2 separate regions of the Homo sapiens genome follow, and region 2 is linked to region 1. Evidence: fine-mapped expression QTL. Tissue or cell type: lung. Region 1 holds a variant in brackets; the other region holds the start of a gene. All regions are shown on one strand. Distances are from middle to middle.

Region 1 (6,103 bases):
ACAAAGTAGTATAAGGATTATTTTGTTGAATTTTTATAGCACATGAGTTCGGCTTATTTGTTTCTCTACTTAAAAAACAAATAAAAATCAAATGCATAATAAACACACAAATATAGAATGCTTGACCTTACATGAAACTGCTATGAGGAATTAGACCCAAATGACATTTATTGTATATAATTTTTAGCTTGATCTCACCACAACTAGTAGAAGTACCTAATAACTGTAGTTCAGGTCTACCAGGAGTGAATTTATAATCAAAGTCTATTTTATTCTTTTTATTTAGTCAAGGAGTATTCACACCATTTAAATGTTCACACCAACAAAATGTTAAATTCTCAATGTTTTAATTTTTAAAAGTTTGCATTTGAACAGAAATGTGAAAGACAATTCACTATCCACAGACAAATGGATCTATCCTGCTGGATTCTTGGATGGGTTACAAAAGTGGCAAGTAGTTAGAGAAGGAAGCAGTTGGTCACCAGGACCCATCATGGATCGGGAGGAGAGTCAGCTTCAGGCAGTCAGCCTTTCCTTGCTGTCCTAGCTCAGCCACCCATTCACATCTTTGTGCTGATACTTACCACATTATATTGGCACATGCTTTTACTACTGATGGATGGTGCTTTCCCAGGGTAGGCGCTGGTTCTTATGTGCCTCTGGATCCTCAGTGCCTAGAACAAATCAGATATTTCCATTCTGAGCTAGTTCAAAACAAAAGAGAATTGCTATAAGCATAGTATATACATTTTTCTTGCATTCTTTTTCTTATATGATTTTATATAAATCATATACAATTTTGACAAAGTTTCTCACTAGATCCCCATGGCATAATGAGAAAATATACTCTTTATAGCATGCACACCTGCCCCCCTCAACTTCCCACACAGTATTAAACCCTGCATAAAATCCCTCAACCACTCTCCAGAGCTTTCTGAAATAAGACAAATGACCTTTCTGCAAATTCTGTAGAATCAGAGCAGTGCCTGTTCCCTGGCCCCACAGGATGTCTGCGTTTGGGAGACTTCGCTGGCCTCTCCTGATGTTTGGCTTCCAAGCAGCCACTGTGAACTACTGGCATCCTGGCTGGAACCATTCACCACGGAGCCCTCCCTGCTTCTGCACATCCCATTTCCTCTGTCCCTCTCCCTGATTCATCTTGGTTCCCTCCCCTTCATTCTTTCTAATTCGGATTAAGCTTCACTTCTTCCTGATGACTTCCCCTCCTCTCCTGGCCTCTCTTCTTTGTCCTGCCATTGCACTTTCCACGTTGTCCTGTAAATCTTGATTTACTTTTCTCCCTTTTCCACTAGGTACAATTATCTTTGAAAGCAGAGGCTGTGTTTTGTTTGACTCTGTGTCACCAGCACTTATTTTAGTTTTCAGCAGCAATATTTGTAGAATTAATGAATTATTTATGAGTGAATAAAGGCAAGTAAGAAGTAAATTTGACTTAGAAATCTCTTGCTTCTGTGTCGGGGAGGATAATAATAAGATTAAGACAGGATACGTGGGTGGAGAAATGCTGAACTCAGTTCAGACTATGTTGAACATGAGTCACTGGAGGTGGGCAAGGTGGCGGTGGCGGGGGGGAGCATTTAAACAGATAATAAATAACATGAATAACATTTAACAAATATTTGTTTAGAGCCTGCTAATTGCCAGGCAGAACATTGTGCAGTAAAATGGCAGTCACCTTGCCCAGAAGATTATGCCCTTAAGGCCTCCCTGAGGCAAGCAGTTGGTCAATAGGTAAAAGACAGGGGTGCTGAAAGTCGGATGGCTTTAGAATGATCTCCAGAGAAAGCCAGGCCCCAGCGCTTGCCTGGGAACACAGGGAAGCCAGTTTACAGGGGAGACTGAATCCTGGCTTAGATTCCCCCTGACCTAAACTGCTTCCCTTGTTCCATGTCTCCTAAACAAGGACTCCTCTTCAAGGATCAACTTCTAAAGACTAGGCCTATGACAGTAGCCTTCAGTGTAGGACTTAATCGGGTGGTAACTGAATTCTCACTACATGGGTGATACTTTAACTAGAGTCTGCGCCCAGCCGAACTCTTTTCTTCTAATATCTGATTGTTATCTATCCCATGGAGGGAAGTGCTTCTGTCTTTTCTTTCCCTGTGGGTACTCACATCTCCTTATATTTTGGGCCAGTTGATTGCCTTGTGACCTTTGTGAGGTACAGTGAGTTTCTCTTCAAAGAGTCAGCTTGCTCAGCTTCCTTGTTCTTTGATCTCAGTTTTCAAAGTCTAACTTCCTCGTTCTTTGTGCCTCCTTGCCCCTAGTTAGGGTAAACAACCTTCCTGCCAGTCCTACTCTAAAACTCACATCTACTCCCTTGGTTACCCACTCTGTAACTGACCTTCCCCCTAGAACTATCCTTCCTGCCTTTACTGCACCCTAAAACTGTAACGGACAGCCTCTCCCATCCCACCTAGTTAACTCTATTCAATTTTAAACAGTAGCCAATTGGGTCAGCTTAGATTGTGCAGTCCAACTACAGCCAATGGAGAAAGGGACACAGCTACAGGAGCTGCTGTGTTTGGAATAAAACCTCTTCCCCACCCCACTTGATGTGCTCTTGCAACCACACCAGGCACAAGTGGCACTCTTCTGCAGAAGTAAATC[G/A]CCTTGTTGAGAAAGCTTTTTGCCAGAGTGCTGATTTTTCTTTGCAGCACCGAGCATTTGTTTCTAACACCTTAGGTCTCTGTTAGGTTAAAATTGAATTTCTTTTTTTAATTTTTCACAGTGGACATGAACTTCCTTCAGCTCTCCTCTATAATCCAAAGCTCAACGGAACTTGATTTGGGGTTTTTAAAATTTGCATATTTTCATTCATCAAAGGTATACACACATAACTATTTTAAGAAGCCACTGTAAAAAGTTTCCCTATCCTTTAGGAGTTTATATGCTAAACACACACACACACACACACACACACCATAAAATACATGTATAATAAAACTCACAAACAAGTTCGTTCAGAATAAGCTGAGCATTTACACAAATTTGGTTTAATTTTAAAAGACAAGGAGGGTTTTGAGGTGTGGACAAAAAGAGTAAAACTCTGTAAAATATTTGAGAAGATTTATTCTGAGCCAAATATGAGTGACCATGGCCCATGACACAGCCCTGAGGAGGTCCCAAGAAACATATGTCCAAGGTGTTTGGGGTACAGCTTGGTTTTATATATTTTAGGGAGGCATGAGACATCAGTCAAATACATTTAAGAAATACATTGGTTTGGTTCAGAAAGGCGGGACAACTCAAAGTGGGTGGGGAGGTGAGGGGGTTGGGGGGAGGGGCTTCCAGTCTATAGGTAAATTTAAACGTTTTCTGGTTGACAATTGGTTGAGTTTGTCTAAAGACCTGGGATCCATAGAAAGGAAATGTTCAGGTTAAGAGAAAAGACTGTGGAGGCCAAGGTTCTTTTGAAGTCTTATAGTGGCTGCCTTAGAGACAATAGATGACAAATGTTTCCTATTCAGATCTTTAAAAGGTGCTAGACTTTTAGTTAATCTCTTCAGAATTGGGAGGACCTGGAACAAAAAGATCTGTAGGACATCAGTCAGGGTGGTGGGAAAAGTTATAAGAAAAAATTTTAGGGAAAGACGCAAATCTCCTTGGAAGGCTGGGAGGTTTTGCAAAAGCTTTCAGCTAAATTCTGCCATCAGCTAAATTCTCTTAAGGGTAAAGGGTAGGTAACAAGGGAATGTAAAGGAACTTAGCTAGATAAATTGGTTTACTTATGTCCCTGGAAACCAGCCTTTGATCATTCGCACTCAGGAGCTCTCTAACTTGGGGGGTCCACAGTGTTAATTACCCACAAGTTGTGTTTGCTCCAGGCCTTTGTCATTAAATCTGTACTAAATAAATACAAATGGCTCCATCTTATCAGGGCTGCACTCTTGTCAATGGTGCTATGCTGTGCAGTCCCCTAGCCACGCTCTCAGGCAAAATACCTGTGTCTGTGCACTCCTTTCATCTGTCTCTCTGCCAGGGTTGGTGGGACAGACCTGGCAATGATCTATGTTAATAGAGATTCTTTACAGATGCAGATTTTCCTCCACAAAGAATGGCTTTGCAGGGCCATTTCAAGATATAGCAGAGAAACATGTTTTGGGGTAAAGTATTTTGATTTTGTTTTTTTGTTGTAGTTGTTGTTTGTTTGTTTTTTGTTTTTTGAGACCGTATCTCTTTCTGTTGCCCAGGCTGGAGTGCAGTGGTGCAATCTTGGCTCACTGCAACCTCCCTCTTCTGAGTTCAAGAAATTCTCCTGCTTCAGCCTCCCAAGTAGCTGGGACTACAGGCATGCACCACCACACCTGGCTAATTTTTTCTCTTTTAGTAGAGACAGGGTTTCACTGTGTTGCCCAGGCTGGGCTCAAACTCCTGAGCTCCAGCAATCCACCTGCCTTGGCCTCCCAAAGTGCTAGGATTATAGGCATGAACCACTATGCCCAGCCCAGTATTTTGAGTTTCTTCCTTGTCTCGTAATGTTATGGCAGAGTCAGATTGGAAAGTAAGTCACAATATATAGGATTAAATAAAACCCATCTGATGAGAATTTATGGTTTGTAGGGCATGACTCCCCAGGTCACTCAGATAGAAATCTGGACAAGAAAAAAAAATCAGAGATTAGTCCTCAGAGGTATTTGTGTGTATCTCAGTATTGTTATTTAAAGAAAGTAATTTAGAATTATGATAGCACTTCATTATATGTAATATGATTCATATTTTCACATTTCTTATTATCATCATTTGAATAAAAAATTCAAATGTGATTTATTTTTAAAAATTATTATTTGCTTTTCATTAGCTAAGGAAATAACAAATATTTGCTATTTGTTTATTGGGGCACATGAAGTGAATTATGAAACTGATTGCATTCTCTTATAATTGACTTCCACTCCTCTGACACCAGTCTTATCTCCCGTTTACTACAACACTGAATTTCCTACACAATTTATATATCTATTTTTTTTCTTTCCTTTACATATGACATGTACTATTACCCTGCTCTCTAGGAAGAGCCTTATTTTCAACCACCATAGAATACATGTAAGAATTATTTCCAAAGACAATATTTGTGATATTCTCTTATTTTCACATTCATTCACATGAGAAAGAAGGAATAACTCTTCTAGATATCTTTATCTACCCACTCTTTCATTGAGTTTATGAGCTAATTAGGTGGAAAGGAAATGCATTATTTTCAATATATCATATTCTTTCACATTTATCTTTTCAGTAAAACAATAAATAATAATTTTGAATTTTGAAAGTTGTATACTATCTCAACAATGAAACTTCCAATGTAGCTCAATATAGCAAAAAATTTGCTAGTCTTGAGATATGAAGACTTAGTTGTTTTTCTTTCATTATAACCTCAGACAAATAATTAACTCTATAGAGACCAATTGCATCATTTGTAAAATGCATGTAATATTATCTATATCGAAGGACTGGTGTGAGAATAAAATGAAATACATGTAACAGGGTCAAGCATCAGGGTATGCATCCAACAATATCTGCATTGGTTTCTTCCTAAGCATGCTGTGCATCCATTACTGCCTCTGGAAATAACCTTAATGGCTTGGCAAAACTACAAATATTAATATTATATAGGCACAACTGATTATTAAATATCAAAGATTTTATCACCATTACTCTAGATATTTAGTAGTAATTCTTTGGCTTTATATTTATGCTGTTTAATCATATAAATATTATGAATGAACATAGAATAAAGGATATAGTCCCAGTAAATGCTTAAAAATGTAATAAACTGATAGATCAATATTGTCTCCCTCTGTCCCTCTCTCCATCCCTCCCTTCTCTCTCTTTCTCTCTCTAGTGTATTGGGTTCTTTGAGTAGATGTTAGTAGATGCATGTACTACTAGAGAGATCAGTGGTGTTTAATTCTATTTTTTTTTTAAGCAAAGACTTAGATGGTTTATTTTAACTCTGCATTTGTTTAGCACATTTACAAAAATAAGTTCACATGGAAACATTAGGAATAAAATTCACGAGTTTACAGGAAGAAAAGGAAGATTTAAAAAAAAAATCTTTCTCCCTTTAAAGGTCTTGGTAATTAGA
Region 2 (6,103 bases), 200 kb after region 1:
GTCTCAAAACATGCTAATCTTCACAGATTACCTTGTATTGTAATTGTTGGCCTAGTTAGTATTATCTGCCCCTTGACTAAGCTTCAAGAGGCCAGACTTGGTCTTTTATCTGTCTTCCAACAGTTCATTCTAGAACCAACACACAACAAACAAAAGTCAAATTGGTTCTCAACAGTTTACTTTCAGTGGGCTTGCGTCCTTAAAATTGTCTTTTATAAAAATATCCTAATTCATGAGAAACATTAGAGGAAGGCAAGGCCCAGCTTACTTAAAAATAATTAACTATAGTCTGTTACATAAAGTAAAAATAGATTAAACACTATTATTTTAATGCAGTATATAAGACTTTTACTAAGTATCACTGAACTACCTTCTGAGACATGATTTTTACTAGATCTGAATAGTAATAAGATAAGTCACAGAGTCTTCTTTTGCTTCGGTTCCTTGTTTGATAATTATGAACCTTTAAATTTATATTGTTTATTTTATTTCCCCTAGTTTTCGTTCTCTTTCTGATTTAATCACACATGCAGAGTAAGACATTGGATGCTAATAATCTCAGCCACCATTAAAATGTTTGTGTCTGATTAAAATTAATGCATTATTGAAGGGAAATATATTATTATCTAATAAGTGTGGATGTGTATTCTATCATACTTCAATCCTTCGAAAATGCTGGACTAGTGAATATCACAAAACAGGAAATTAGTAATACAAAATAAAAATGTTAGGAAGATGCTGTAAAATGAAAATACTGATTATATCTGGGTGTTGATATCACCATGACTTTTTAAATTGCTCTTCTGATTTTTACACCTTTTTTACAATGCACAAACTGTACTTGTATAATAATAGTTATGTCAGCGAGAATGTATGCACTCGTATTTAGTTAAGAAATATTGTGGCATGTACAGTACAGTCCTGATTAATAAACAATCTGGTTAATAAATAATAATTTTGTCTGTATTATGAGGAAAAACTGACATTACTCAGAAATTCAACACACTGAAATCGAAAGTACTAGAATGATCTACTTACACAAATCGTCTTTTAAAACACTACATGACACTTGAGTAAACCAGCCATCAAACAGGACGCGGCTTTTGGATGATCATTACCTATAGTTGGTAAGAACTGAAAATTTTTAGGGGTAAAATTTAGTGTATACAGTACCTTATTATGCAGCAGAAGAGGCTAGTAGGTCGAATCCTGCCCAAGAGGTTTTGCAATTTTCTCTTTAAAAAACACCTACTTCTCCCGCATCCCCAACACCCACAGCGCTCCTTAAAGGAAAATGGATACGGATGCCCCATCCCTTTGGTTTCTCAATGCATTTTACTTAGAAAGAGGTCACCTAGTAAGACCCATGTGGTGAATGTGCACCCGGGCGGGGCATGAGGGTCCTTGGAAAGCACCGCAGAGAGGGCGACACCGCAAACCGCTGTCCCACGCGACCCCCGGGGCGAGCCGGGGCAGCGCTGCACTCGGTGCGCACCGGCAGCGTCTGGCACCCACGCCACCTGCTGCTCCCGCGGGTCTGGCAGGGGCAAGGGGCGGAGTGGGCAGGATCTTCAGATCAAAGGAGACCGATGCTTGCCCACGGCATCCAGCGTAGGAGCCGGAATCGAGGTGACCCCAGATTTTCCCAGAGTGTCTGTCTCCTTTCCCTTCTCAGAACTCCGAGAGCCAACGCTAAGGGGCACCAGAGGCTCAGACTGCGGCGGCGACTCGCAGGCACCCAGCTCGCCCGCGGCTGCGGAGGTCCTCGGAGGAGCCCACCCGGGAGGGGGTCTGGACGCAGGCAGCGGGGGCAGAGGGAGGGTCGAAGCCGCTCCAGAGGGTCCAGGTCCGAGGAGGAGCCCTCGGAGACGCGGACGGTGCGCGCGGAGGGCAGGGCTAGGCAGTGACCCCGGGTGGCACAGGGCTTACTGTTTCTTCCTAAGACTCTATGAGGCCACTTCTAATCGTTTACTTTAGAATAGGAAAGAAAACATAGACAAATGGGTGGCTGTCACCCAGGCAGCTACACGGTCGATGCAGGTGCACAGGCGTGCGCGCCATTCTCCCGTGTCACACAGCAGGACGGAATAACTGCACGCACTGGGAGCGATGGATCTCGCGGTCCGGGATCCGAGACGCATTCAGAGACCAAATGTCACCTCATCCCTCCTCTAGCCAATTCGAGCTTCCTCCGCGGACCCCCACCTTCCATCCGAAGTGGCTCGGTCCTTAGTTGAGAGGACTCTGCCCAGACCCTCGCACCAGTAGAGACCTCTGCCCGGGCGCCTGCAACTCGGACGCTTCCCGGAGCCAGAGCGTGCGGGCGGCGCGGCCGCGAGGAGCCTCACCGGCCATGCCGTCCGCAGTCTGACTTTTATTTTTCTCTTCAGTGATTAAAACAAAATATCGTGGACAGGGGGACAGAAAGGAAAGAGCAGGCGCCTGAGCCCGGGGAGCCGGGCGGGGGCCCCCGGGCCCCGCGGCCCCGCCGCCGCCCGCCCCCGCGCGCCTTCTCCCTCCTCCCGGGCCGAGCCGGCGCCACTGCGCCAGGATGGAGCGAGCTCGGCGCGGGAGGAGATGACGCAAAAGCCAGCGCTCCCCCCAAAAAAGTGTTTCTCCAGGACGAAGATGGCGGCAACTTAGCCCGCGGACTGAAGATGACTGTGGCTCTCGGGAGGCCCAGCCCAGGCGATTCGGCCCGGAGCTCCGCGGGAGGCGGCGTCAGCAGTCGGAGCCCCGGCGGCGGCGCCCGCGGGCGGCCCTGCGGCAGCGGCGGCGGCGGCGGCGGCGGCGGCAGCACTTAGAGCGCGGGGTGGGGGGTGGGGGGGAGGGAGCGCCCCGCCGGAGGCAGCCCAGGCTCCGGACTCTGGGAGAGCCAGCGCGGAGCAGGAGCGGGAGGCGGAGGAGAAGAAGAAGGAGAAGGAAAGGAAGGAGGAGGAAGAGGAGGAGAAGAAGAGGAGGAGGAGGAGGAGGAGGGGAGGCGCTCCGGGCGCCGTCAGTGGGCAGCGGAGGCGCGGCATGCCCCTGGCAGGGGAGAGCGGGCTGGGCTCCGCGGGGCCATGGGGACCCGCGCGCTGACAATGCCTGGGTGACCGGAGCCGCGCCAGCCACCCTGTCACCTCCACCATCGCCCCCTGCACCCAGCCTCGCCGCCGGCCACCAGCACCAGCCTCCTCCGTCTCTCTCTCTCTCTCTCTCTCCATTATTGTTTCCCACTCTACAGAGGATGGGGTCGGCTGATGATTAGGAAGCAAGTCAGACCTTCCTTCAAAGCCTGGTAATATTTATGTAGGCAAAAGAGACAGAGAGAGATAAAAGAGAGGGAGAGGGAGAGAGAGAGAGAGGAGAGAGGGAGAGGGGAAGAGAGAGAAAGAGAGAGAGGAGAGAGAAGAAACGGGAGGAGGGGATAAGGAAATTAAACCCTTTAAGTCAATGCATATTGTGGTGACACCGGCACAGGCGCCCTCACGGTGGAGTCGGCCAGGGCTGTGCGTTCCCAAAATATGACCAGGGGTGCTTGGATGTGTCGGCAGTATGACGACGGCTTAAAAATCTGGTTGGCAGCACCCCGAGAGAACGAGAAACCGTTCATCGATTCCGAGAGGGCTCAGAAATGGCGACTGTCTCTGGCATCTCTCTTGTTTTTCACAGTCCTGCTCTCTGATCACTTGTGGTTCTGCGCCGAGGCCAAGCTGACCCGGGCCCGGGACAAGGAGCACCAGCAGCAGCAGCGGCAGCAGCAGCAGCAGCAGCAGCAGCAGAGGCAGCGGCAGCAGCAGCAGCAGCAGCGGCGGCAGCAGGAGCCCTCCTGGCCCGCGCTCCTGGCGAGCATGGGGGAGTCCTCGCCCGCCGCCCAGGCACACAGACTCCTCTCCGCCTCCTCGTCCCCCACCCTGCCCCCCTCCCCGGGAGACGGCGGCGGCGGCGGCGGCAAGGGCAACCGAGGCAAAGACGACCGGGGCAAGGCTCTTTTTCTAGGAAACTCTGCCAAGCCCGTGTGGCGCCTGGAGACTTGTTACCCCCAGGGCGCGTCCTCGGGCCAGTGCTTCACGGTGGAGAATGCGGACGCGGTGTGCGCCAGGAACTGGAGTCGGGGGGCGGCCGGGGGGGACGGGCAGGAGGTGAGGAGCAAGCATCCCACTCCGCTCTGGAACTTGTCGGATTTTTACCTTTCGTTTTGTAATTCCTACACACTTTGGGAGTTGTTCTCGGGGTTGTCCAGTCCCAACACTTTGAACTGCAGTCTGGATGTGGTGCTCAAGGAAGGCGGCGAGATGACCACTTGCAGGCAGTGCGTCGAGGCTTACCAGGACTATGACCACCATGCTCAGGAGAAATACGAAGAGTTTGAAAGCGTGCTCCACAAATATTTACAGTCGGAGGAGTACTCGGTGAAATCCTGTCCTGAAGACTGTAAGGTAGGAACCCTCGGGGGTTTCCCCCTTTCCTGCACTTTCCTATCTCTGCTTGGTTGGGGTGTCTTCTCAAGTTTATTATTATTATTTTTTGGCTATGGTTTTGTTACTTTGTGTTTTCTGCGGTTATTAAGAGCTTGGCTTGCTGTTTGAGATGAGAATACCTGGTGGATTGCTGGTGGACTGACTGATGCCTTCTTCTGGGAGTCCTTGGAAGATCAGGGAAGTCCCCGGTTATCTGAGATAATCAAGCTGGCACTTTAACTGTTTCTTACATTCATGCAGTTGGCTCAAACTCTGTTACATCTTTTAAGAAAAGGAAGTTGAAAAAGTCTTGTCAGGAAAATAGCAATGAGACTGCACACTGATGCTCACAGGTAAAGTCAGAAGAGTTCGAGACAGGCATGTGTGGTTTGCAATATAGATCTGCACACAGGAACGCTCTCATAGTGACATCATTAAGTTGGTTGAGCAAGAGAAAGTGGTTGTAGTTGTTTCGGTAGTTAAAAAGAATTACCTGTTTTTACAGGGGTAGTTCTGGTTGTTCAGAAAGTCTGGGGGCCTACCTGAGGATATTTACTTTTTTTAAGTTTTCTGTTTCCTCTTGGACATTTGTATAATTATTGATCTGGGACTCACTATGAATGAACAGTTGTAATTAGGTGTCTAGTGATTGACTAGCAATAGGCTATTTATCAGACACACTATGTAATTAGCTTGATTTTCAGTATGCTTTCCAGAAGTATTAAATAGCAAAACGTTGATGATGTAGTTAAAATTTACTGAAATATTTAATAGTCTGTATTATATTTAAGCTCTCCCTGTTCAGTGTAATAAAGAATATAACCCTTGCTGATGGGCAAATGGGAAGCCTGCGCAAGTTTCTTAAGAATTGGTCGATGCAAATGCAACAATAGGCGCAGGTTTTAATAGAAGCGTCTCTGTCCGTGGTGCTGAAATGAGATTTACCCAAGAGCTGTACTGAAGATGAAGATACTGCAGTGACCTTTAGTAGGGAAGATGTAATGACAGTATCTCTATAAGCCTTAATGTTTTGTTCCAAGGGTAATTTCTTACACAACACAATAAACGGGTACTGCTTTTCAAGGGAAATAATACACCACATTCTCTCTCTTTCTCTCCTACTTTCCCAATCCCATATACAAGCAGAACAACTGTTCCTCTGTCTCACTTGCGTTCTGCTGGGAAAATAAAGTCAAGGGTGGTATAGATCAAATAATTTTGTGATTTTTTTGATAAAAGAACTGGACTAAGGGATGCCTATTTTAAATGAACACAGTCGAAAGGCCATATTTTACTTTGGGCGGATTAGTTGTGCTTTTGACAGTTAAATTAAACTCAAACTGACCTTGCCTTATTCTCATTCTTCAAGACCAGAAACACAGCTCTCTGAAAATAGTAAGTCTGAATTTACAACATTAATTTAGAGTGATACTTCACTAGACAAGTGTATCTTAAACTTTTTTATCTATTTTTTTAACCATATCACTTTAACTTATGCCTGGGAATAAAACTTTAATGGTAGAAATTAATAATGAATAACTACTGCAATAATTGCAGTTATTTATTTTGACAAGATATGTTGCATTGAAATTGTAAAGAAAAGGAAACTCTACGTCTTCTAATTCTACTAGTAATAAAAGGATTGCAGAGGGTTCAGTTTAGTT

Alleles and levels. Alleles are on the strand shown, and positions count from the first base shown. SD is a standard deviation of normalised expression in the study named.
As copies of G replace A in region 1, the expression in lung of the gene that starts at base 2,604 in region 2 goes down (moderate effect, 0.41 SD a copy in GTEx).

Evidence for each region. PIP is the estimated chance that this variant, and not a neighbour inherited with it, causes the effect.
Region 2: NALF1 starts here. The variant in region 1 is fine-mapped to the expression of NALF1 in lung (TOPMed, PIP above 0.99).

Annotation. Positions count from the first base shown.
Region 1 is chr13:108,066,164-108,072,266 of GRCh38, reverse strand. No RefSeq gene overlaps it. Among named protein-coding and RNA genes, the nearest start is that of LIG4, 150 kb to the left of the region's middle. The variant G/A (reference allele first, on the strand shown) is at 2,632.
Region 2 is chr13:107,863,997-107,870,099 of GRCh38, reverse strand. It overlaps NALF1 (NALCN channel auxiliary factor 1), which reads left to right and starts at 2,604. Exons shown (of 3, transcript NM_001080396.3): 1 at 2,604-4,418. The coding sequence starts at 3,504. LOC124903206 (heparan sulfate glucosamine 3-O-sulfotransferase 4-like) reads right to left here and starts at 3,427. Exons shown (of 1, transcript XM_047430833.1): 1 at 1-3,427. The coding sequence starts at 3,203. The coding sequence ends at 2,640. RefSeq lists an enhancer at 1,568-2,136.